Linked DNA regions of Homo sapiens: region 2 is linked to region 1. Evidence: fine-mapped expression QTL. A gene starts in region 1. The other region holds a variant in brackets. All regions are shown on one strand. Distances are between the middles of the regions. Region 1 holds the start of OSTM1 (osteoclastogenesis associated transmembrane protein 1). Region 2 overlaps ARMC2 (armadillo repeat containing 2).

Evidence for each region. PIP is the estimated chance that this variant, and not a neighbour inherited with it, causes the effect.
Region 2: its variant is fine-mapped to the expression of OSTM1 in B cells (Fairfax 2012, PIP 0.92).

Annotation. Positions count from the first base shown.
Region 1 is chr6:108,067,510-108,079,900 of GRCh38, forward strand. OSTM1 (osteoclastogenesis associated transmembrane protein 1) reads right to left here and starts at 7,232. Exons shown (of 6, transcript NM_014028.4): 1 at 6,741-7,232. The coding sequence starts at 7,142. RefSeq lists a silencer at 7,003-7,442 and an enhancer at 12,318-12,391.
Region 2 is chr6:108,946,049-108,958,439 of GRCh38, forward strand. It overlaps ARMC2 (armadillo repeat containing 2), which reads left to right. Exons shown (of 18, transcript NM_032131.6): 13 at 6,985-7,303. Among named protein-coding and RNA genes, the nearest start is that of ARMC2-AS1, 28 kb to the left of the region's middle. RefSeq lists an enhancer at 5,176-5,677. The variant G/A (reference allele first, on the strand shown) is at 6,407.

The sequences.
Region 1 (12,391 bases):
AATGGAGGGACAGGGGAATGGAAAGAAATGATAGAAAGTCAGCCTGGCACCGTGGCTCACGCCTGTATCCCAATACTTTGGGAGGCCGAGGCAGGCAGATCACCTAAGGTCAGGAGTTCGAGACCAGTCCAGCCAACCTGGTGAAACCCCATCTCTACTAAAAGTATAAAATTAGCTGGGTGTGGTGGTGCACACCCATAGTCCCAGCTACTCAGGAGGCTGAGGCTGGAGAATCGCTTGAACCTGGGATGGTGGAGGTTGCAGTGAGCCGAGATTGTGCCATGCACTCCAGCTTGGTTGACAGAGCGAGCCTCTGTCTAAAAAAAAAAAAAAAAAAAAAAATAGAGAAAGAGAAATGAAAGAAAGTCTCTGAGTCCCACATTGCTCTTTAGTGACTTCTCTTTCTTATCTCCCCATCAAGGCCAAACTCTTCAGCAGTTGTCTAGGTTCACTCTTCCCATGTCCTCATCTTCCAATCCCTGTTCAACCCACTCTGATCTCACTTTCGTACCCAAGGACTCCATCAAATTCACTCTTGTTAGTGTCACCAATACTGCCAGTGTTGACAGATATATCTCCAATTCTCTCAGCAGGATTTGACACAAATAACCACCCCTTCCCTTTTCCTTGATTTACAGGGCATCATGCTCTCCTCATTCTTCTTTATCTCTCCAATTCTTCCTTCTCAGTCACCTTTGAGAGTTTACCCTCTATTTAATCTTAAACTCTTAGTGTTCCTACTCATTCTTCAGGTATGTTCACCCATGTCATAATTTCAAATGCCATTTTTATGCCGACACTCCCAAAGGTGTTATCTCTAGTCCAGTCCTCTAGATGTGTATATTCAACCACATAGGCAATCAATATATCCACTTAGAAAGCTCATAAACACCTCAAAATCAACACGTTCAAAACTGAGTTAATGATCTTCGCCCACTAAACAGACTCCTCCCTCCAGCTCAGTAAATGACAACCCTATTCATTAAGCTGCTCTTATTAAAACCCTGGAAATCATCACTACCTTTTCCTTACTCCCCACATTCAATTAACCTCCAAGCCTGTAATTTCTGCCTCCTAAGTATCTCTGAAATCCACCCATTTCTCCACATCATGATGGCCCCCACATAGCCTAGACACCACTGTCTCTCACACCACTGCAACAGTCTCCTAATTCATCTCCCCACATATCTTCTTCCCCTACCCTCCCCAGCCCCTACCCTCTCCATTTTCTGTCACATAGCCAGCATAGCCTTTTAAAGTACAAATCTGATTATGTCATTCCACAGAATTAAACCTTTCACTAACGTCATACTGCTTTAAAATCAAAGTCTAAAATCCTTAACATACCCTACAAGGCCCACATGACCTGGCACCTGTGTACTTCCTTAGGCTCAGACCACGGGTTTCCTTCTTGCTCACTGTGCTGTGTTCTAGACCTCAGATACACCACAAACTCCTTCCCATCTCAGTCTTCATGCCTGCTATTTCTTTACATGTATACCTTCCCTCCCCTGCCTGTGTTCTCTCAAATTGTAGGTGTCTGCTTTAATCACTGACCATTCTACCTACCCCCCAGTCATACTCAAGATCAGCACTCTTGTCATATGCATTGGTAGCATCTGGGTTTTTTAATCAGCAACACTTATCACACATGAATTAAATAATTATTTGTATAATGAGATGCTTAATGTCTGTCTTCAGACTACAAGCTCTGCTCATTCATGCTATATCCCTAGTAGCTACCACAACCTGTACATAATAGGTACTCAATAATTTTTTTGAATGAATGCAGAAGAAATATTACATTTTCTGATCTCTAATGAAAGACACAGATTATTACACTATGTTCTGGCTTTCTCCCTATAGTCCTCAGAATTCATTATTTAATAATCTACAGTAAAAGTATATTGAATACTCACCAAATACATAACCCAAATGACTAGCACTTCACAAAGATACACAGATACATAGATAGATAGAGATAGATAGGTAGATGGATGGATCTATAGATCTAAATTTTAAACACTATCTAAATTTTAAACAAACCAAGTAGAATAGGACAGAGCCTACCAATTCAGAATCTGAGGGGGCAAAAGCATCCTCAGGACCATTCCGATAATGCTGAATCACAATGAAACTATGTCCCTATCAGTTTAAACTAAAAGGAGAAAGTATGACTCTAAGGAAGAGGGAATCCCTCAGTTCTATCATTCAGGTTTCAGAAATCACTGTATTTTTCACCTTGAGATAATGAAACTATATGCGATCCCTCTCCCAGAAATTCTAAAAGGAAGTGACAAGAACCTAGGATTCTTATCAGGGAATTCTATTATAGTTAAACTAATTATATTGCTGTACCACATAAATAGCTTACTAGTTTCTGGCTTTGATTCTTTTTTTCTCCTTATTATACTCCTCTCCTCTCTCAATCAATCCATGTCCATTCACACTAAAGAAGGGTAGAAAGAATGCCTTGAGATTCAGCTTGTAGGTTTCCCCTGATGAACCAGCCTTGCTCTGTTCCGTCATTTTTTTTTTCTTTTTTTGAGATGGAGTCTTGCTCTGTCACCCAGGCTGGAGTGCAGTGGTGCAAACTTGGTTCACTGAAACCTCAGCCTCCCAGGCTCAAGTGATTCTCCCACCTCAGCCTCCTGAGTAGCTGGGATTACAGGCACATGCCACTACTCCTGGCTAATTTTTTATATTTTTAGTAGAGACGGGGTTTTGCCATGTTGGCTAGGCTGGTCTCAAACTCCTGGCCTCAAGCGATCCACCTGCCTCGGCTTCCCAAAGTGCTGGGATTACAGGCATGAGCCACTGCATCTGGCTCTGTTCCCTCCTTTAACTTGGCATTCCTTTCACTCTTTTGTTCTAAATTGCTATGGTACAATTTATAACACTCACTGATATTTTCCTATTTCCCCATATAAGGTATTTTATTTCCCCTAACTATACTGATAGTTTGAGGCCTGAATCTTACCCTTCTTTTCCTTCTTATCCTTTTACCAGCCCAATATTCAAGAATAGTAGGTGCTTGCTAAAAACTGATTTCAATAAAAGACTGAGTCTGAGTCAAACAAAATACATTACACTGGATAGGCTGGGCGTGGTGGCTCACGCCTGTAATCCCAGCACTCTGGGAGGCCGAGCCGGGTGGACCACCTGAGGTCAGGAGTTTGAGACCAGCCTGGCCAACATAGTGAAACCCTGTCTCTACTAAAAATACAAAAATTAGCCAGGCGTGGTGGTGGGCGCCTGTAATCCCAGCTACTTGGGAGGCTGAGGCAGGAGAATCGCTTGAACCTGGGAGGCGAAGGTTGCAGTGAGCCGAGATCCCGCCATTGCACTCCAGCCTGGGTAACAAGAGGGAAACTCCGTCTCAAAAAAAAAAAAAAAGGGCTGGGTGTGGTGGCTCACACCTGTAATCCCAGCACTTTGGGAGGTCGAGGTGTGCAGATCACGAGGTCAGGAGATTGAGACCATCCTGGCTAACACGGTGAAACCCCGTCTTTACTAAAAATATAAAAAATCAGCCGGGCGTGGTGGCGGGCGCCTGTAGTCCCAGCTGCTTGGGAGGCTAAGGCAGGAGAATGGCATGAACCTGGGAGGTGGAGCTTGCAGTGAGCTGAGATTATGCCACTGCACTCCAGCCTGGGCAACAGAGCAAGACTCTGTCTCAAAAAAAAAAGAAAAAGAAAAGAAAATATACTACACTGGATAAATAAACCTCCCCAAGAGACAACTAATTCCTTCAAGTTCACTCATGACACATTTTTCCATAGGTTTTTGTTTTGTTTTGTTTTGGTTTTTTTTTGCAACGGAGTCTTACTCTGTCCCCCAGGTTGGAGAGTGGTGGCACTATCTTGGCTCACTGCAACCTCCACCTCCCGGGTTCAAGCAATTCTCCTGCCTCAGCCTCCTGAGTAGCTGCGCACCACCACACCCGGCTAATTTTTTTTTTTTTTTTTTTTTTTTGTATTTTTAGTAGAGGCAGGGTTTCACCATGTTGGCCAGGCTGGTCTCGAACTCCTGGCCTCAGGTGATCTGCCTGCCTTGGCCTCCCAAAGTGCTGGGATTACAGACACGAGCCACCACACCTGGCCTCATAAGTTCATTATTATACATGATGGTTCAACTCCCAAACCAGTCCATATAGCCTTTTAAATCTATAAAGTACCTCAGAACTGTAGATGTCACACTTTTGAGCTAATGAATCATATCCAGCTCTACTGGGGAAATAAGGCGAGCCGAGACCAAGGCCTAGGATGAGTTGGAGAGAAAATACAAAAAAAGTTTCCCTGCCTCTTTTCACCTGTTTATCCACTTCCTTTCACATCAGGGTGAGTTGAGCTGGGTACCCAGGTTGCTGGTAGAATCTGAGGGAAAGGAAGGGGGTTTCTACAACTCCCCCACTGGGAAGCCTCCTTTGGGTAGTGGGGAATTCATATGGAAATTCACATGCAGATTGGGTGATGCCCATAATACTGCACCCTAGAGTTTGAGGTGCTATTTTTAGCCTCTCTTTAATTCCACAGTACCTACACACATGAGAAAAGCATTTGCTGCCTTCAAAGACCCAAACTTTGCATCATGATCCCTGGCCATTCTGCCCACAATAGCCCTTGTTCTTTAGAGTAAATGGAACCCTAAAACAACTCATCTTAACCACTCAACACTGAATATGATGCTATATCGTATCCTGCTGTAGTTGACAGGGACATGTCTTGGGTACTTTATTTTAAAGTGATAGTAAGATATATATTCCTTGCTATACCCAATGGAAGTGTGCCTGGAAAATACCGCATGTAAGCCTGAATTTATTTACCTCGAAAATATGTCCTTGGCCAGGTGTGGTGGCTCACACCTGTAATCCCAAATCTTTGGGAGGCTGAGGTGGGTGGATTACTTGAGGCCAGGAGTTCGAGAACAGCCTGGTCAACATGGTGAAACCTGTCTCTACTAAAAATACAATAATTAGTTAGGTGTGGCAGTGCACATCTGTAGTTCCAGCTACTCAGGAAGCTGAGGCAGGAGAATCACTTGAACCCAGGAGGCGGAGATTGCAGTGAGCCGAGATGACACCACTGAACTCCATCCAGCCTGGGCAACAGAGCAAGACCTTGTCTCAGAAAAAAAAGAAAAAAGAAAAAAAAAAAAACATGCTCTTTACAGAGAGATTGACCACAGAATTTATTTAATGCAAATAAATTCCCCAGTTATGTAAAATGACAGATTTTTATTTTATTTTTATTTATTTATTTATTGTGAGATGGAGTCTCACTCTGTTGCCCAGGAAGGAGTGCAGTAGTGCAATCTTGGCTCACCCCAACCTTGGCCTTCCAGGCTCAAGTGATTCTTCTGCCTCAGCTTCCCGAGTAGCTGGAACTACAGACGTGTACCGCAATTCTTCTGCCTCAGCTTCCAGAGCAGCTGGGACTACAGGCACGTGCCACCACGCCCGGATAATTTTTGTATTTTTAGTAGAGACGGGGGTTTCACCATGTTGGCCACGCTAGTCTCCAACTCCTGACCTCAGGTGATCCCCCTGCCTCAGCCTCCCAAAGTGCTGGGATTACAGGCATGAGCCACCGCACACAGCCATGACAGATTTATTTTAAATAACAGGCTGACTTAAAGCAGGATCCAACTAGGTACAAATTTATATTTAGTGCAACTATAAACAAGTTTAGACAAGTTTAAATTTATGGAATAATTCCAACCACATTTTCATGAGACTACTTGCTGTCCCCGTAATACAAGAGGAACTTTCTCATTCTCCAATCCCAATGTTATTCCTCATGTTTTTCCTTTACCAAGCATATCCGGCCCACACCTCGTGACTCCCACCAACCCTGACACTCTAATCTTTTCCTAGTCTAAACTTTATAAAGTACTTAGGAGCAGGAATTGTCTGTTTTTCTTTTTAAAATTAAGTGCCTCACAGCAGCTACCACACACCTAGAGAACCCTTAAGGTATGAAGAATGAAGAGCAGTCTTACAATTTCTTAAAAATTTACCTCCCATTTACTTAGAGGTATTACTATGTGTTGTTTTCTAAAACCTCCTTTTATCCCCATTTTACAGATTAGTAAACAGGCACAGAGAATGTAAGTAACTTGCCCATAGTATACCGCTAATAAGCAGAGTGGAACTGGAGTCCTGGCCGCTAGCTAGCTCCAGACTGTTCACATCACTAAGATGAAGTCACAGGCAATATCTCTTTTAATTCTTCCAACAGCCGCATTAGGCAGATGTTCTTTCCACTTTATAGAGGAGGAAACTAAGGTTCTGAGAAGATAATTAATCCAAGGTTACATAGTTAGAAGTTGGTGGACATGAACATTTCTGGCTACAAAGCTCAAATTTCTAACCACTACCAGTGTCTCCACCCCACTTGTTTCAGAAAAGGATCCTTCCTGGCAACTCCAGGTGAAGATGAGAAGAAGCCGTGGTGGAGTGGGTGGAGGAAGAGCAAGAGGGTTGGGGAATCAGGACCCCCAAGAAAACCAATCACACCTATATGAACCAAAGATGTCCAACAGCATTCTTGGAAGCAAAAACCCAAATCCCAAGCCCCATAATGCCACCCCCTTTTTCTGATGACCCAACTCTACAGACTCAGTCCAACCCCTTTTTCTTACTGTTGGGGAAACTGAGGCCCCCAGCGCTGACCATCATTACACCCTCCTCCTTTCCCAACTCTCCTGAGCCACAGTCCCGGACGTGGTCCTGTACCCACCCCCGCGGCTCGGCTGATGTTGTCCATCTTGCTGACGACCTGTTGGAAGAGGGGGTAGCAGGTCTGACAGAGGCGCACGGGCCGGGCGCTGCGCACCAGACACCCTGTCAGCTCTGCGCTGCTGTTGGCGAAGTCCAGCAGGAGCTCCCGGCACTCAGGATCCAGATCCGGCAGGTCCGGGGGCAGCGACAGAGGCCCCAGCCCTCCACCCTGCAGGAGGGACAGGGACAAGTCCTCCACCTCCAGCAACTGCTGCTCCGACAGGAGGTCGTGGAAGACCCTGTGCGGACTGCTGCCGAAGGGGAGCGCGCCCAGGGCCAGCCCCGACCACAGCAGCAGCCCCAGCGGCAGCCACGGCGGCAACGAACACCTCCGCTGCGCGGCTGTCGGGCCCGGCTCCATCACCGGGCTCACACACCCCAGGGAGCCCACCGCCGCCTCTCCGCCCCCAGCCGGCACCGCGGACAGCCGCCGCTTCCGGTTTCCGCGAGCGCAGGCCGAGAGCCGGGTCACGAGGAGGGCGCGTCACGGCCCCGCCCCCTGCGCGCGGCGCCCCGCCCCATTGGCTGCCGGCTGCCTCCGGGCCGCAGGCCTTCGCGCGTGCGGGAGGGCGCCTACCCTGCGGCCGCGCGCTCTCCAGCCGGCGTTAGGCGCGGGGCGGGGCGGAGTGGTGCATTGGGGTATCCGTAGCCGAGGCTCGCCAGCCGGTGACCACGAGCACCCACCGCTTTGGACAATTGCATCTCGGGGGTCCTGACCCTTGAACGCCCAACCCTCTGGGAGTTCCGGGCGTCCTACAAGTTTCTTACCTCGCTGGACCGACGACGGCCTCCGCTGTGGAAATGGCCGTCGGCTGCGTTCGCAGAGAAACCCCGCTGGCCTGTGCCTCGGCAGATTTTCTGCATGGTGTTCCTTAGCGTAGTTTTTTCCTCATCCCATTTGGAGAGAGTAATAATGCCCGTTGGTTATTATAGGTGGTGGAGACTAGCGGTTTCCAAGCTTTTTGTTTTTGTTTTTAAAAAAACTCTCAACTGTCTGCCTCAGCGTTGTCAGAACTCTGTGAGATGAGGGAAATATTCTACATCTGCGTTATTAAGGCAGCCACTGGCCACATGTGTGGTGTTGAGCCGGCTGAGGAACTGAATTTTTAATTTAATTTAGGGCCGGCGCGGTGGCTCACGCCTGTAATCCCAGCACTTTGGGAGGCCGAGGCAGGCAGATCGCTTGAAGCCAGGAGTTGGAGACCAGCCTCGCCAACATGGCGAAACCCCGTATCTACTAAAAATACAAAAATTAGCCGCTGGGCGTGGTGGCGCAAGCCTGTAGTCCTAGGTTGAGCGGGGAGGATGGCTTGAGCCAGGAGGTCGAGGCTGCAGTGAGCCGAGATCGCGCCACTGTACCCCAGCCTGCACGACAAAGTGAGACTCCATCTCAAAAGTAAAAAGTATTTAACTTAAATGTAAGTAGCCACATCTGTGTAGTGGCAACTGTACTTGACGTAAGTCTGGTCCTACAGTGGCCAACAAGCAGGTTTGCTTGGAACTGAAGGGGTACCAGGGACGCAGCGCGTTCAGTGCTAAAGCCCAGGAAATCCTGGACAAACTGCTCAACTTGAAACTCCTATCCAGTTTCTGACATGCCCGAGGCAATAGCAGGGGACACTCTAAAAAGCGTCCTGATACCGTTGCCAGTCTGTAAAAAGAATTTAAGCTCATAACCTGGAAAACAGTTTTCTGACAAGTATCTGACCAACCAGGTTGGTAGAAAATTATTTCCGGGCTTTGTGTCATCCTGCTTTTCAGGGTTGTAATTTTTGCCTTGTAAATTGCAGAGCTGTTGCACTAAAGTCTACTTAGCTTAGGGTCCTAATTTATGTTTCTGAGGGTTCTTCAAAAACTTTTTTGTTGTTGTTGTGTATTTTGTTTGGTTTGGTTTTGAGACATAGTCTCGCTAGACTGCCCAGGATGGCCTCGAACTCCTAGGTTCAAGGGATCCTCCTGCCTCGGCCTGCCAAACAATTGGACTACAGGCACAGGCTGCTGTGCCCAGCCTGGGGGTTCTTATAGTTACTTTTTACCCCGTCTGTTTGGTTATTGTTTTATGTTCCTAAATTTGCTTGGGATAGCTAAATTTTGTTTCATTTTTGTTACTAAGAAACTGAATAGTAGGAAATTTGATTTGTGTAACAATAAACGTATTTCCAAAAGAGAAAATAAGTTGTCTTAAGTTTTGCAAAAGTCATCATGTAACTCTTAGGTCTTTCTATGTATTAGAATTATCTTTCTTTTAAATTCTTTCAAGCACCATCCTGTGTTGCAGGTGGATGTGTAAATTGTTAACTTCTATGGAAATCAATGTGCAGAACCAACAACCTTGCAAATGCACAAGCTCTTTGATGCAGCAAGTTCACAACCTTGTCATAGACACTTATTCATTACAATATTGTTTGTAGTGGTAAAAGGATGGCTTCAAAAAGCATGTTAAGGGGCCGGGCACGGTGACTCATGCCTGTAATCCCAGCACTTTGGGAGGCCGAGGCGGGCGGATCACCTGAAGTCAGGAGTTCGACACCAGCCTGGCCAACATGGTGAAACCCCGTCTCTACTAAAAATACAAAAATTAGCCGGGCATGGTGATGCATGCCTATAATCCCAGCTACTCAGGAGACTGAGGCAGGAGAATCTCTTGAACCTGGGAGGCAGAGGTTGCAGTAAGCCAGGATCACACCACTGTGCTCCTGCTCAAAAAAAAAAAAAAAAACTTAAGGAAATTACAGACACTTTCCCTCTTCCTTTCCTTTCCATTCCCGGAACAATTCAATCTTAAAGGTCAAGTAGAGCAAGATAGGCATCGGTGCTTGGTAGGAATGGGGTGTCAGAGGCCCAGAGAGAGGTGTCAGAGCATAGGTAAGCTGAAGAGGACAGTGGTGTGAGGGAGGGTGGCAGCATCAGCCTGATGCAGAGTATTGGGTTCTCAGTGGATAAGAAGGGTCTCCATGCAGAGGATTGGGCAGCAGTGACTGGGAGGTTGCTTACATTCAGAAGGATTGATGGAATCAGTAAATATATTAAGAATAATTGGAGTTCAGTTTCAGACTGTCAGAGAAGAAAGTTACAAATATGAAAAGAGAGAAATGAACTCTAATGTTGGATTAAAATTAGAAATAGTGCAAATTCATAGCTTAAAATACATAGTCATCCCTTGATACCAGCAGGGGAATGGTTTCAGGACCCCCCACAGATGCCAAAATCTTCAGATCCTCAAGTCCCTTACATAAAACACCATAGTATTTGCATATAACCTAACACATTTCCTTCCGTATACTCTTTTTCTTTTTTCTTACATGCTATTAAAGCATCCTCTTTATACTTTTAAATCATATCTAGATTACTTATAGTACCTAATACAATATACATGCTATGTAAATAGTGGTTATACTATGTTGGGTTTTTAATTTATATTATTTTTTATTGTTACTTTTTTTCTACTAGGAGATACTACTTTTTTAAAAATTATGGTAAAATATACATAACATAAAAGTTACCATTTTTAATGTACTTTCAGTGGCATGTTACTTTTTATTGTGGTTTTATTTTTCTCTTTTTTTGTAGAGATGGGATCTTCCTGTGTTGCCCAGACTGGTCTCAGACACCTGGGCTCCAGTGATCCTCCCACTTCAGCCTCCCAAAGTCCTGGGATTAGCAGTATGAGCCGCTGTACCCAGCCCTCAAATATTTTAGACCTGCAGTTGGTCGAATCCCAAGATGCAGAACCCATGCATACAGAGGGCCAACTATATATAGTATAGAAATAAATACAGATGTAAATTTATGTGTATACATTTTATATGTGTATGTACATATATGAATATATGGTATATGTATACATATATATGTACTTGTGTGGGTGTACTTCCTCTGGCTTTGTCCACTTAGAACACTTAGTAGCAAAGGTACCCCAGTGATAATGAGCATGCATAATGCCCAGATCTTGGATTTGAAGTATCATTCTCCACTAAAAGGAACCAAGGATCCTTGGAGAAATGGCTGATTCAGAAAAAGCACAAATTGAGACTGGATCATCTTGTGCCAGAAAGTAAGGAAGTGCTCAAAGAATAATGTTGGAAACATGTGAAGGGCATACAGAAACAGCTTGAATGGACTCCCGCTGGTCAAATCTGAGTCACTCTCAGCATTGAAATAATGATGGTTAACAAACTATAACCCATTACATAAAACCACAAGCTCATAGTGATCAATTTAAATAATAGATTGATAAGGACTAATACATTTACATATTTTCATAGATTCTCCCCACCAAATACTTATTAATTACAAATGGGGAAAAAGGAGTAAATTTACAGTGGAAAACCTTGTCCAGTCCTATGTTAATCAAATGATCAACATGAACATCATCATAATGGAACATATACAAGTTGTGTGCATCTGATAGGCTGCAATTAGAAGAATACAGTGTCAGTTCTGTTATATTCCTGCCAAAGATGCATAATCTGATTCTAATCATGAGGGAAGTGTCAGACAAATCAAATTAAAGTTCATTATATAAAATATCTCGACTATAATCTTCAAAAGTGTTACAGCTACAAAAGTCAAGGAAAGATTGAGGAACTGCACCTGACAGGACATTACTGGGACAACTAGCAAAATTTGAATAGGGTCTGAGAATTAGATGGTAGTTATGTACATTGCTGATGAGATTAATGATTATGAGAGAAGATTATATTCATCATGATACAATAGCCCCATAGTGTAAGAATAAGGAAAGGTCTTGTCTTGAATGTAAACCTGATTTAAAAAAAAAAAAAGTAATGCTATTGCCTAAATTCAGATCCTTTGCATCTCTTGTCTACGATATTGTAACAGCAAAAACTAGCAATCAAAGGGAAACGTCTGGAAAACCAGAAAAGAAGATGAGAAATTGACCTACGATGCTACCTCACATTCCTCATGTAAATTCAAAATGTTAATCAAGACTCTGTGAGACTTTCAAAAAAAATGTTTTCATGAGAAATTGTTAAGAAAAATTACCTCGAATTTGGAAATAAAGTAAAAAACAATCAGCATACTGGGGCATATTTTCTTATTCTTTCTTTGTCTTTTTCATATGGATTAATTAAAAAACCTTGTCTTTGAGCTCTGAAGTTCTTTCTTCTGCTTGTCAATTCTATTGCTGAGACTTTCCAGAACATTTTGCATTTCTACAATTTTTGCATCCATTGTTTCCTGAAGTTTTGATTGTTTTGTATTTATGCTATTTCACTGACGATTTCTCCCCTCATTTCTTGTATCATTTTTTATTTCCTTAAATTGGACTTTGCTTTTCTCTGGTGCCTCCTTGATTTTAGCTTAATAACTGACCTTCTGATTTCTTTTTCAGGTAAATCAGGGATTTCTTCTTGGTTTGGATCCATTGCTGGTGAGCTAGTGTGATTTTTTTGTGGGTGTTAAAGAACCTTGTTTTATCATATTACCAGAATTGTTTTTCTGGTTCCTTCTCAGTTAGGTAGGCTGTGTCAGAGGGAAGGTCTAGGGCTCAAGGCTGCTGTTCAAATTCTTTTGTCCCATGGGGTGTTCCCTTGATGAAGTACTCTCTCCCTTTTCCTAGGGATGTGGCTTCCTGAGAGCTGAGCT
Region 2 (12,391 bases), 880 kb after region 1:
TGGCCTTGGTCTGCGCCCCTGACCGGGCAGGCTGTACAATACGCCCTTAGCTTGTTCATTCTTTCCAGCTCCTGCCGGCTTTGCCCTTGTGGAACTGGCTCTTACCCCGCTCAGCACGGAACCCAAATGCCTGATTTATGTCTGCTGGCTTGAAAAAGAACTTAGCACAGTGAAATTCTAGCATTGGCCTGGTACTTTTGAGTGACATTCAGAGGCATATCGTGGGTGCTCAATAAATGATTGCTGATAGAACAGATAGATGGATGGAGGAATCAAGCGTAATCTCTTCTGGTTTTAAAATGATTTTCTACTTAGATTCTTGGCTTTGAGTCTCCAACATTTCAGATTCTTCGATTTTATCTAGTTAAACACGTAGGCAAACTCTTGACCCACTTTCAGTGCCCTATGGTCAGTTAGCATTTTTGCAGTAGTGCACAGTCTGTCTTCCAGTTTGCTAAAATTTATCTGTTCTTCAAGCCACCTGCAAGCTCAATTAATGTTTGAGTTTTGTTTGAGGGTGGTAAGTTGGATAAACAAAGCAAATTGTAAATCCTGATTCAGCTCTCAGGCACGAGAAGTTTGTAACCATATTTTAAACAGGGTATTTTGATTAATTTTCTGGTTAATAGAGAGTTCGGATTTTAAGTATATTTACATCCCCTTCCATTTCAACCCATTCTTACAAATTTTTCTAAAATGTGTTCCTTTACTTAGTGGAAGCAGTTCCCTCCTAAGTGGAGTCTGCTGAACATAGTTTATTCTTTCTGTGACAGCTTGATATTGTTTCTTCCCCACAGTCAACATTATGCACATGAGTTATTTTAAGGTACGGGAGGAAGGGTGTGGGAGTCGGGGAGGAATGTGTTCACTGTGGCTGGCCATGGGCAGAGAGTAATGTGAGGTAGCAAAGAAGTGGTTGCGTGGGGCCAGATGATGCATTAGATGCTGGCTTTGACATTCATTTAATAGGCAGTAGATGTTTTTGAGCAAAGGGAAGAGCTGTGCTTTAAGAAGTGGTGTTAGGGTTGATGGCAGAGGGAGGAGCCTGGAAAGGGCCTCTGACAACAGTCTACAGGCAGATTAGCCCAGGTCGGCATGGGCAGGAGGGAGCTGGGGAACATTTTGAGATGACAGAGTCGAGGAGACTTGGTGACTGCTTGGTGAGGGGATGAGATAGAGAGGAATCAGAGATGCTGGGGCTGGGGGACTGGGAAGATGATGATGATTAGCAATGAGGAGTTGGGCTGAAGGTGGTTTTGGAAACCATCTGTGTGTACAGAGATGATTGTTCAAGTCCTGCCTCTTCTCTTCACCAGTGTTTGACTTTGGGCTTACTTAATGAGTCTCCTGAAGCCTCAGTTTCAACATCTCTAAATAGGGGTAAAAATGTCTTTCATTGGCTTTAGGCCAATGTCTCTCCCATGGAAAGTAACATGCAACAGCTACTGCCAATGCTGCCACCATTGGAACTGGACATAGACCATCCTGGTGAGCAGTGCCCTGTTCCTGGTTTTATTCCAGTTAAAGTAATTTCATTCACAGGCTTGTGGGGCCCATTCAGATTGAGTAACTTGTTTGCTCATTGGGGCATAACATCTGCGAAACTAATGACAATATCCCTCAGGCTCTAACTGGAAAGCTCTGTTGAGGTCAGTCTTCTTCCTCTAAGTGTATCTGTTTGTCTAAGCTCTGGTTGGCCGTAGCTGTTGCTAGGCTGATTCTGTTTTAAGCAAAATTAGAAAGTCGATATGAACTGGTTATACTAGACTGCCTTCTTTAGGAAAAAAAAAAAAAGCTCTCTCTTGATTCATCTTCAGTTTGCTATTTCAAAATCACATAGTTATGATATGAATATGCAACATTGTGTTAAATTTAATAAAAATGCTATAAAAATGGAGTGTTAATTTATAGATGATTCTCAGATATTGTCTAAGAATAAAGGAGAGAATGTGTGCCTCAAAGGAGAGCTGCATATTGATGAAATCCTTTTCCGCTGTGGAATTGGTGCTCTCTCTAAATAGATGATTTTGGCCTTGGTTTAATTTTTACAAATCTTTATAGAATATTAAGTAATATTTTATAGACTTGAGATGGCTCGGGCTGTGGAACAGTAGATAATCTCTCCATGATCCTGCCCAACGCAGACCTTGGTTCAGTAGGGAGGACCTTGGAGTGCACGGTTTGGGAGCAGAGGCCACCCATGGTGAGGAGAGGGGCCCTAGAAAGCTGACTTGCTCAGCCTTCTTCAGGATTCCAGATGAGTCAAGACAAGCCCTGGCATGGAGATAAGAAAACACTACCTCTGCTGACCTCCTGTGAGATGGCTTCTATTTTGGCCTCTTCCAGGATCCCTAGGTCCATGTAGAATATATTTAAGAAGGGAGGGGAAAAAAAGAAAAGAAAAAGTGCCTTAGCTAACCCTGAAAAACAGGACAAAAACAGTAAGCAGAGATAGCAGTTGCTGGAAGTTTGGTGCTGCAGACGGCGCAATCTGCCATCCCATTTGTTGATCTCGCATGCCATGCTTCAGTTGGCACCGCGGCTGCCAGGAACCACCCCCTCCTTTTCCATCTGAAGCAGGAAAAGCAGTATTATAACAGTGTTAACTCTTCCTGCCCTACAGCCTAGAGCTTCTTCTTCTGCACTGGAGGCTTACTAATCTCGGCCACGTTAGGACCTACAGAGATGACAGAATCGAAGAATTTTAGAAGAGGAAGGGGCCTGAGGGAATTTTTAGAAAAAGAAAAGCAGCACTTAGTCTTCCCAGATTAGACTGCATGTGACAGTGGGGAGAGGTCATTTGAATTTTGAAGAATGATGACCACTAAGGAAATCTATTTTTTACCAGGATCTGATCTAAATCCTGGCAAATCAACACGGATAGCTGGAGGTGGGACAGGGCTGGAGAAGCCTACTGAGCTGGACTCAGAGAAAAGCAAGACCAGGTAGATGGAGGTGAAACGGCAAGGCCTAGGAAGAAAAAAAACAATCCAGCACCCTTAGAAGATGCCATGACATTTTAGGAGGTAAATTGTTTAGTCCTGGTAACAATTTAGGGTACAAAATGCAAATATTAATTAAATAAGCAATCACTTAAAATCACTCATAATGCCTTTCCTGTCTTGTTTAACATGCTTTTATGGAAATGGGAGAAGAGAGCCCAATTCCAGGAACATGGTGAAGTCCAAAACTTATTAACATCACTGTTATCAAATGTGCGAGGGAGATGGCGGTTTAGATTGTAAAAGATACTGTGAATAGCTTTATTCAGGTTAAAGAAATGGAAGTTATCATTTTTAGTGAATTAGTTAATTTGTATATATAAATGCTTAGGACAATGCCTGGCACATCATGAGTACTAATAAGTACTGTGTGTTAGTTGCTGCTGTTACTGTGCTGTTATTGTTATTAATTATTAGGATTTTCAGAACTAGAATTCATATAGTCTTTCAGCAGGAAACATGTATCAAAGTTCACACAAAAATTCTGTTTATAGTCCTCAGCTTAGAAAATATCAGATGAAGTTCTTCTTTAAGATGCTTAATTCTTGGAAATACCCTCTGTCCTGGTTGGAAAACTGATTTTCTGCTACTCTGTTGGGTCTGATCAGGGTGGAGGAGAAGCTACCAACTCAGAGCCCAGGGCAGGGCCTTTGCCACCAGGCATTACTTGAAGTAACCCTCTGTTTTATGTGAAATGGGATTCAAGTATTATAATCAAATTGTGTGTGCTTGTTTTAGACTTAAGGCCCATAAATATCCCATAGCTTCTTTAGGGAACAGTCAGGTAATTAAAGAATGAGAAGATGACCCCTGGCCCAGGAAGGAGATAGTCCCAGATGCTCTCTCAAACTAATCCTCTTCAAACTAAAAACAGGCCGGGCACAGTGGCTCACGCCTGTAATTCCAGCACTTTGAGAGGCCGAGGTGGGTGGATCACTTGAGGTCAGGAGTTTGAGGCCAGCCTAGCCAACATGGTGAAACCGCGTCTCTACTAAAAGTACAAAAATTAGCCAAGTTTGATGGTGCATGCCTGTAATCCCAGCTACTTGGGAGGCTGAGACAGAAGAATCACTTGAACACAGGATGCGGAGGTTGCTGTGAGCTGAGATTGCACCACTACACTCTAGCCTGGGCGACAGAGCAATACTCTGTCTCAAAAACAAAAACAAAAAAAACAAACAAACTTAGAACCATTTGACCCAGAAATCCCATTATTGGGTATATACCCAAAGGAATATAAATAAATCATTCTATCATAAAGACACATGCATACATTTGTTGATTGTAGCACTATTCACAATAGCAAAGGCATGGAATCAACGTAAATGTCTATCAATGGTGGATTGGATAAAGACCATGTAGTACATATACATCATGGAATACCATGCGGCCATAAAAAAGAGTGAGATCATGTCCTTTGCAGAAACATGGATAGAGCAGGAGGCCATTATCCTTAGCAAACTAACGCAAGAACAGAAAACCAAATACCACAAGTTCTCACTTATAAGTGGGAGCTAAACGATGAGAACTCATGGACACAAAGAAGGGGACAACAGACACTGGGACCTACTTGAGGGTGGAGGGTGGGAGAAGGAAGAGGATCAGGAAAAATAACTATTGGATAGTAAGCTTAGTACCTGGGTGACGAAATAATCTGCATACCAAAGCCCCATGACACAAGATTACCCATGTAACAAAAGTGCTCATGTACCCCTGAGCCTAAAAAGTTAAAAAAAGAGAGAGACTTGTCTTCTGCTGCCTGCCCAACCCCATGCTCCCTTCCACATATCTCTGCATCTCACAGCTTCCAAGGTTGAACTCAGATTCTTTCATGATAACTCTGCTGAACCTGACACTGTTCCCAGAGCATCCTCTTTTCAAAACTCTGGTGAGACTACTAGGCCTGTGCCACTGAGTTTATTGCTATTAGTTAGCATTTTATTGATAGGACATGAAAAGAGTTCACAGAAATGCCCGAATCATTGCTCAGTACAATTTGTGCTTTGCCTGTTGTATCTCATGTGATCTCACAGTAAGAATTTTGTCTCCATTTTGCAAACAAGTTAATGGATGTACAGAGAGGCCAAGCATCTGTGTGAGTCCAGCCTGCCTGGCTGTGACCTGGGACTCATAATCCCCTTTCACGTCTCGCTTCTTCCTTTGCCGTTTTAGTCTTTGCCGTTTCCCCACATATGTTAGCCTTGTCTTCTCAGTAGGTGAGAAGCTCTTCATAGCACTGACTTTCAGACTTGGTTATGTGTGTGTATTCCTAGGCCCTGGCATTAAGAACTTACCTGAGGACTAACATTCTATTTCCCGGGGTGGAGTCAGGAGCAGGGTCTCCTAATTGGACGACCACTATGGCTGGTTGAATGCTGTGAGTTGAAATGTCTCCGAAAATGAACTCTCTCCTGGACCATCTCCAGTTTTTGCTGTAGCATTAGCTGCTGTCCTTCCTTAATGTTTGGCAAATGGTTTCCGGTTGTGCAAGCAGCAGCCTCGCTTCTTCTCTGCCAGTGAGTGTCAGGGAAAACTTTTGGATTTTTTAGCAAGAACAAGCAGGAACAAGTTGGTATTGGCAGAGAAGGCCTAGGTAAATCCAAAAGTTGTACTCTGCCCCCAATCCTCCCCAGTTTCCTGGCCACACCCGACGCCCCTCACGGGGCCCCTGGCGTCGCACCTGGACATGCGCTCCTCGATGAAAACGTGCCCAGCCCTTGGCCCTTTGTCCCCTTTTCTTAAGGCTACTGCTAACTACTGATCTGATCAACAAAGTCACGTTTATGGTCGTCCCTTCTGGTGACATATTTGCTTTTAAAAGGAGATAATTCTTTAACTGTTCTGCAAGAAGGCAAAGGAGGAGAAAAAGTACACGACACCCTGTGTGGGAAGCAGATGTTGGTGTAGAAAGGACACTAGAGTCTGGGTCACCCTGGAATCAAATCCTGACCTTACCCTTCACCAGCCATGTGACCTGGGCAGCTTCTCCAGGCCCTAGTTTCTTGTCTATAAAATGGCATAGTGCCTGGCACTGTATATATAGATATAGATATAATACCATCCAGGCCAGTTGTAGCCCTCCAATGAGTATTCCTTTAAAATCTCCTCCTCCCAGGTCACCTCCATTGACACCCATGGGGAAGGCTGATCTGGACTCATATGTGGACATTGTTGTCAAACTAAAAACACAGTGATTTTTGTATCTTGTTTAGTTTTAAAATGTTCCCAGCTTAGGGTTTGTAAAAACATTTTAAAATTGTGAAATATAGCCTATATACAGAAAAGTGCATAAAACGGGTATGCACAATTTAGCAAGTAATTATAAAGGTGTCACTCATGTAACCACCACCCTGGGTAAGAATTGGTAGGTACTGCCTTAAAGTAGTGTAGCTACGTAACACAGC[G/A]CTTCTCCACAGGGGGCAATTTTGGCTGTCACATCTGGAGAGGTGTTGTCATCTAGTGCGTGGAGGCCAGGTGTGCTGCCAAACGCTCTACAATGCACAGGACACCTCCCCACAACAAAGAATTATCCAGTCCCAAGTGTCAATCCTGCCCAAATTCAAAAACACCATACTTCAGCAGGAGACGAAATTTTAAGGAAAGATTTGGAATTTCAAGAAACCGGCTATTGTCAAAACTTAGATTTACATGACTCATTTTTAGTAATGCTGTCCCACTCAACTAATTGTTCTCTGAAGGAGATAAAGAAAGGCGAGCCAGAATTTAAGATGAAGGATCTGAAGGTAATAGACGTTGCTGATCACATCAATCAGTTTGTATTCTTTCATTGCTGCCAAGTGCTTTTAATCTCCTTTGTCACTTTGCACTGATCTTGAGAATCAAATACTGTACAAGTGAGCCGAAGCCAGACGTGTTCCATTTTACTATTAATGCAATTGTGAATAAATTAAATACTATCTTCTTCCCCACGATGTGTTCCAGCCCCCTTTGCACTTTTGACTCTGTCTTTCGTTTATTGCAGGATTTAGTCGTCCGTGTTGTTTTTATTCTTGGCAACCTGACGGCAAAAAATAACCAGGCTCGTGAACAATTTTCCAAAGAGAAAGGGAGCATCCAAACTCTGCTGTCATTATTCCAGACGTTCCATCAGCTGGATCTGCATTCCCAGAAGCCGGTGGGCCAACGAGGCGAGCAGCACAGGGCGCAGAGGCCGCCGTCAGAGGCAGAGGACGTGCTCATCAAGCTGACTCGTGTGCTGGCCAACATTGCCATCCACCCGGGCGTGGGCCCGGTGCTGGCCGCCAACCCGGGGATAGTGGGCCTGCTCCTGACCACGCTGGGTGAGAACCGCAGCCCACTGGCTGCAGCAGACACAACCAACTTTCCCGCGGCCCAAAGACAGTTCTGTGTCTGTGGTGTGATGAGGATTTTATTATCACAAGTGGCTCCCTATGAGAAAGTCTTAGCTGTATGAAGGAAATTCCCTCTTCTGTTCAGAACTGTCTTAAAAGTAATCCAGATTATTAGAAAAGGAAAAGAAAACATAGTAATAGAGATTATTACTAAAACCCACCAAATCGTACACTTTAAAAGGGTGAATTTTATGGTTTGTGAATTACATTGCAATTTTTTAAAATTATACTCAGCAAATGAAGAAAACTTGGCTAAACTAACCACAAAGAGTTTAAAATTCCAAATATTTGAGTTTAAAATCCCAAATCCCAAATATTGTGGGCAATCCACATGATTAAAATTAATTCCTTTTTTTTCCTCTTCAGGTTCTTACATTATTTGTAATTACAGTCTCCAGTCATTCAAGTCCTGTTCATTCCCCTTGTATTAGCTCAGATTGCCATAACAAAATACCACAGATTGGGCAACTTTGTCAGAAATTTATTTCTTATGCTTCTGGAGGCTGAGAAATTCAAGATCAAGGTGCCAGACTGTTCAGCTCCTGGTGAGGGCTCTTCCTCCTGGCCTGCAGACAGCCACCTACTCACTGTGTGCTCACATGGCTATTCCTTGGTGCAAGCACTTGTGGGGTAGGGGACAGTCTGTCTCTCCCCCTCCTCTTTTTATAAAGTCACCAATCCTATCATATTAGGACCCTACCCTTATGGGCTCTGTAACCTGCTGTATCTCTTCAAAGTCTTATCTCCAAATACAAGCATATTGGGAGTAGAGCTTCAACATATGAATTTTGTTGGGCACACAATTCAGTCCATGGCAACCCCTATACTTTTTAGGTCTGTCATCTCCCACAAGCACTTCTGCCTGCTAGTGTGTAGGAAAATTAACTGCAACCCAAGATTGATTAATCTTGCCACTATTAGGTGGGCCTGGTGGCTCAGGCCTGTAATCCCAGCACTTTGAGAGGCTGAGGTGGGTGGATCACAAGGTCAGGAGTTTAAGACCAGCCTGGCCAACATGGTGAAACCCCTTTCTCTACTAAAATACGAAAATTAGCCAGGCATGGTAGCATTCACCTATAATCCCAGCTACTCGGGAGGCTGAGGCAGGAGAATCGCTTGAACTCAGGAGACGGAGGGCCGCAGTGGGCCGAGATCGTGCCACTGCATTCCAGCCTAGGTGACACAGTGAGACTCTGTCTCCAGAAAAAAAATTAGCTACTACTAACCATACTTGTGGAAAATGTTGTTGTTTTGGAAGGAAGCTAATGTCTGACACAAATGATGTTTTGGAGGAGCAATCTGTGAACTCCCTGGCCTCCCTCGCCCCCACTAGTCAACTCAAGAGCCATTTCCTAAGCTCTTTCTGGGTAACCAGTTCTGTGCTATACATTCAGTTTCATTTATTCTGCTCAGGCTGCCATAACAAAATCCCGTAAACTGGGGAGCTTCAACAACAGACATGTATTTTCTCACAGTTCTGGAAACTGGAAGTCTGAGACCGAGATGCCGGCAGGGTCAGGGTCTGGTGCAGGCTCCCCTTCCTGGCATGTGGTTGATTGCCCTCTCACTGGGTCCTCATGTGCTGAAGAGAGCACACTCTGGGGTCCCTTCTACTTCTTGTAAGGGTACCAGCTCCACCGGATGAGGGCCCCACCCTTCTGACCTCATTTAACCTTTATCACTTCCCCACAGGACCTAGCTCCAAATACAGTCACATTGAAGGGATAGGGCTTTTACATGTGCATTCTGGGGGATACCAACATTCAGTTTAGAACAAGGTTTTAAAAATGGAGGCTGGTATGTGCTTTCAAGGAATTCGGCCTATATGGTGGAGGGACATTGAGTGCACAGACAAGAACCCCAGTTTCTGAGAAGGGCAGAAGCTAGGCATACACAGCTAAGGGACGGGTGGCAGAGCCCGGCTGCGGGCATGTGAGTGACAAGGCCGTGCTTCATTATGGAGCTTTACGGTTGAAAACGCATTTTCATATCTGTTACCTCACAACAATGTCAGGGCACGTTTTTGTTATTTTCATCATTTCACAGATGAGGAAACGGGCTCAGTGAGATATAGTGACTTTCACAGGTCACAAAGTTAGCAAGTGGCAAAGTCACCGGGCCCCTGACCTGTGCTTCCCCGCACTCCACATCACGTGTCACCTGTCTTGAGAAACGACTCTTCACTTCTGATTGGGATCTGCACCATGACTTACCACTTCCATGTAAATAACTCAAAAATCTCTGTGTTTAGGCTTGAACTCTTTTCCAAGCTGCTGACTGCACATTAAGCCACGTGGAAGAAAATGCACGTAGCTGTGAGAGAAATTCAGTTTCTGTTCCAACCTCAAAACGTTCAGCATTTGCTCTGTAGCATGCCCATGTCTGCTGAAGCTCTTTCCCCTTCCTGAGATCCACTCACCACACTGAGCAGGGCTTCTCAGCCCAGGACCAGGGATGGGACTGCTGCAGAATCAGCTGTGGGACTCTTTAAAATACCCTTTTTGGTTTCTGGCCCCTGCCCAGAAACTGCCTCTGTAAAATGCCATTAGAGTCTTGAAATCTGCCTTTTAATGCCTCCTTTGCCCCCAGGTGAGCCTTTTGCCCATTAAGTGTTGAGACCCAGTGCTTCAGGGAACCATGTTAGCTTTTCTGGCTCCTCAGGATCTAGCAGAAGCCTGAAACCGACTGGGCGAATTCTCATCTGTTGCAGAATTAATCCCTTTACCTGACTGTGGCTGCCCAGGAAGGGCCTGAGGACCAGACCTCAAACACCTGGACTGGGGGCACATGGCTGTGAACAGCCAAGGAGTAGAGTTATGCATGATTCATTTTCCCACAGTTGTTAATATTCACATATAAAGTGAAAAAACTCCTCATCTTATAAATATTTTATGAGCTTAGAAATTACATTTCTACCTATAAAGGAAGAGTGAATAACTTGCTTTTGACTCAAAAGAAAGTGATGCTTTGGGGTAGGAGAAAGAGGCAAGAGGCTGGGCACGGTGGTTCGCGCCTATAATCCCAGCACTTTGGGAAGCCAAGGCAGGCAGATTGCTTGAGGCCAGGGATTCCGGACCAGACTGGGCAACATGGCAAAACCCTGTCTCTATTAAAAAAAAAAAAAAAAATTAGCTGAGTGTGGTGGGACACGCCTGTGATCTCAGCTACTCAGGAGGCTGAGGTGGGAGAATTACCTGAGCCCAGGAAGTCAAGGCTGCAGTGAGCCATGCTTACACCACTGCACTCTGGCCTGGGCAACAGAGTGAGACCCTGTCTCCAAGAAAAAGTCCGGGCGCAGTGGCTCACACCTGTCATCCCAGCACTTTGGGAGGCTGAGGTGGGCAGATCACTTGAGGTCAGGAGTTCAAGACCAGCCTGGCCAACATGGCAAAACCCCATCTCTACTAAAAATACAAACATTAGCCAGGCATGGTGGCACGTGCCTGTAGTCCTAGCTACTCAGGAGGCTGAGGCAGGAGGATCTCTTGAACCCAGGAGGTGGAGGTTGCAGTGAGCCAAGATCGTACTGTTGCACTCCAGCATGGGCGACAGAGTGAGACTCTCTCTCTAAAGCTCCCTGGCTGCTCCTGATACAGGTGGTCAAGGGCCTCCCTGTGAGAAATGTTTTAGTCTCTGTATTAGAGCCTGGTACCATATGAGGTTGAGCAGAAGTGAAGAAACCCTGCTCTCCTGTGATGGGTCAGGCCTCTTGCCTACTATGCCTTAGGCAGTTGTTTGGGCAAGCAGGTGATCCCTTCTCTATTCTCTCCTGAAAGACTTTATCTCCAAATAAAAGTTGATAGAAGGGCAAAAGTCACCCCTGACAGGGGGTCACCCCCCTCCACCTTCCCCTTACACAGCTCGACTCCTGGGTGAGTTTCTAAGCCCTGCTAAGCCCTTTCTACACTGGTCTCTGTGGATTTCCTACCTGTTTTGTCTGTGTCGGTGTGGAGTGGTGACCACATTCCAGGAAAGGCCTCCTGCCCCCTCTGACAGGCCTGGCAGCTTAGAGCAACGCAGGGCCAGTGCTGGGCTGTGACTGTGACTATAGAAAGGGCCTGCCCGTGGTTTGGTTGTGCCCACTGAACTCAGAGTTGCTGCTGTCCTGTTTACCCTCAGAGCTGAGCACTCCTCCCAGCCTGATGGCTCCTGTGGCATGGCCCCCTTCCCTAGTCATGTGGGAAGGGCATCCCTTAGGCTCTTTTCTTCCTACCTCCCTCTAGCCCTGCACCCTTCACAAGGAGTTACTTGTACCCCAGGACTTGCCTAGAGAGGTCAGCCTCATTGCAGAGGGTCTTTTAAAAATCAATAATGTTTCTAGTAAGAACTGACCCTCTCAGTATGCCACCAGACTCAGAGATTTGCTGACTTAGTGGCAAGTCCAAATTCCAGATTGTCTCATATCCGTGAGTGAATTATAGAGGGTAGGATGGTTGTCATGGTTTTTTGGAAGCAGTCTATTGCCCCAACTAGCTCCAATGGGAACTCAGCAACCCTGAGTCCTTGGCTTCCGCAGCGTTCTGTGGAAAGAGTAGGATAGTAGGGGTCAAGTACACCTGGATTTAGATGTGTGCTCTGTGAAGTGAGGTGAGGTATTGAACTTCTCTAAACCTCAGTGTTCTCATCTGACCCCTAAATTCATCTATGAAGTCCTAACCCCCATGTGATGGTATTTGGAGATGGGGCCTTTGGGAGATAATTAGGTTTAGATAAGGCCATGATGTGGGGACCTCATGCTGGAGTTAGGGCCCTTACAAGAAGAGACACCAGAGCCTGACCATGCAGCCTCCCTGATCTTGGACTTCCAGCCTCCGTAACTGTGAGAAAATAAATTCCTGTTGGTTCAAGCCACCCAGTTTATGGTATTTTATTATGACAGGCCAAGGTGACTGAGACAGATGCACCTTTCGAGAATGAATTATTGTGGGTGTGAATTCTTGTAAGTGCATGTAAAACTTATTAGCTGACTTTTGAGGGTTACATGCATGGTAAAGTGCCTAGTGCTGTTTATGATAA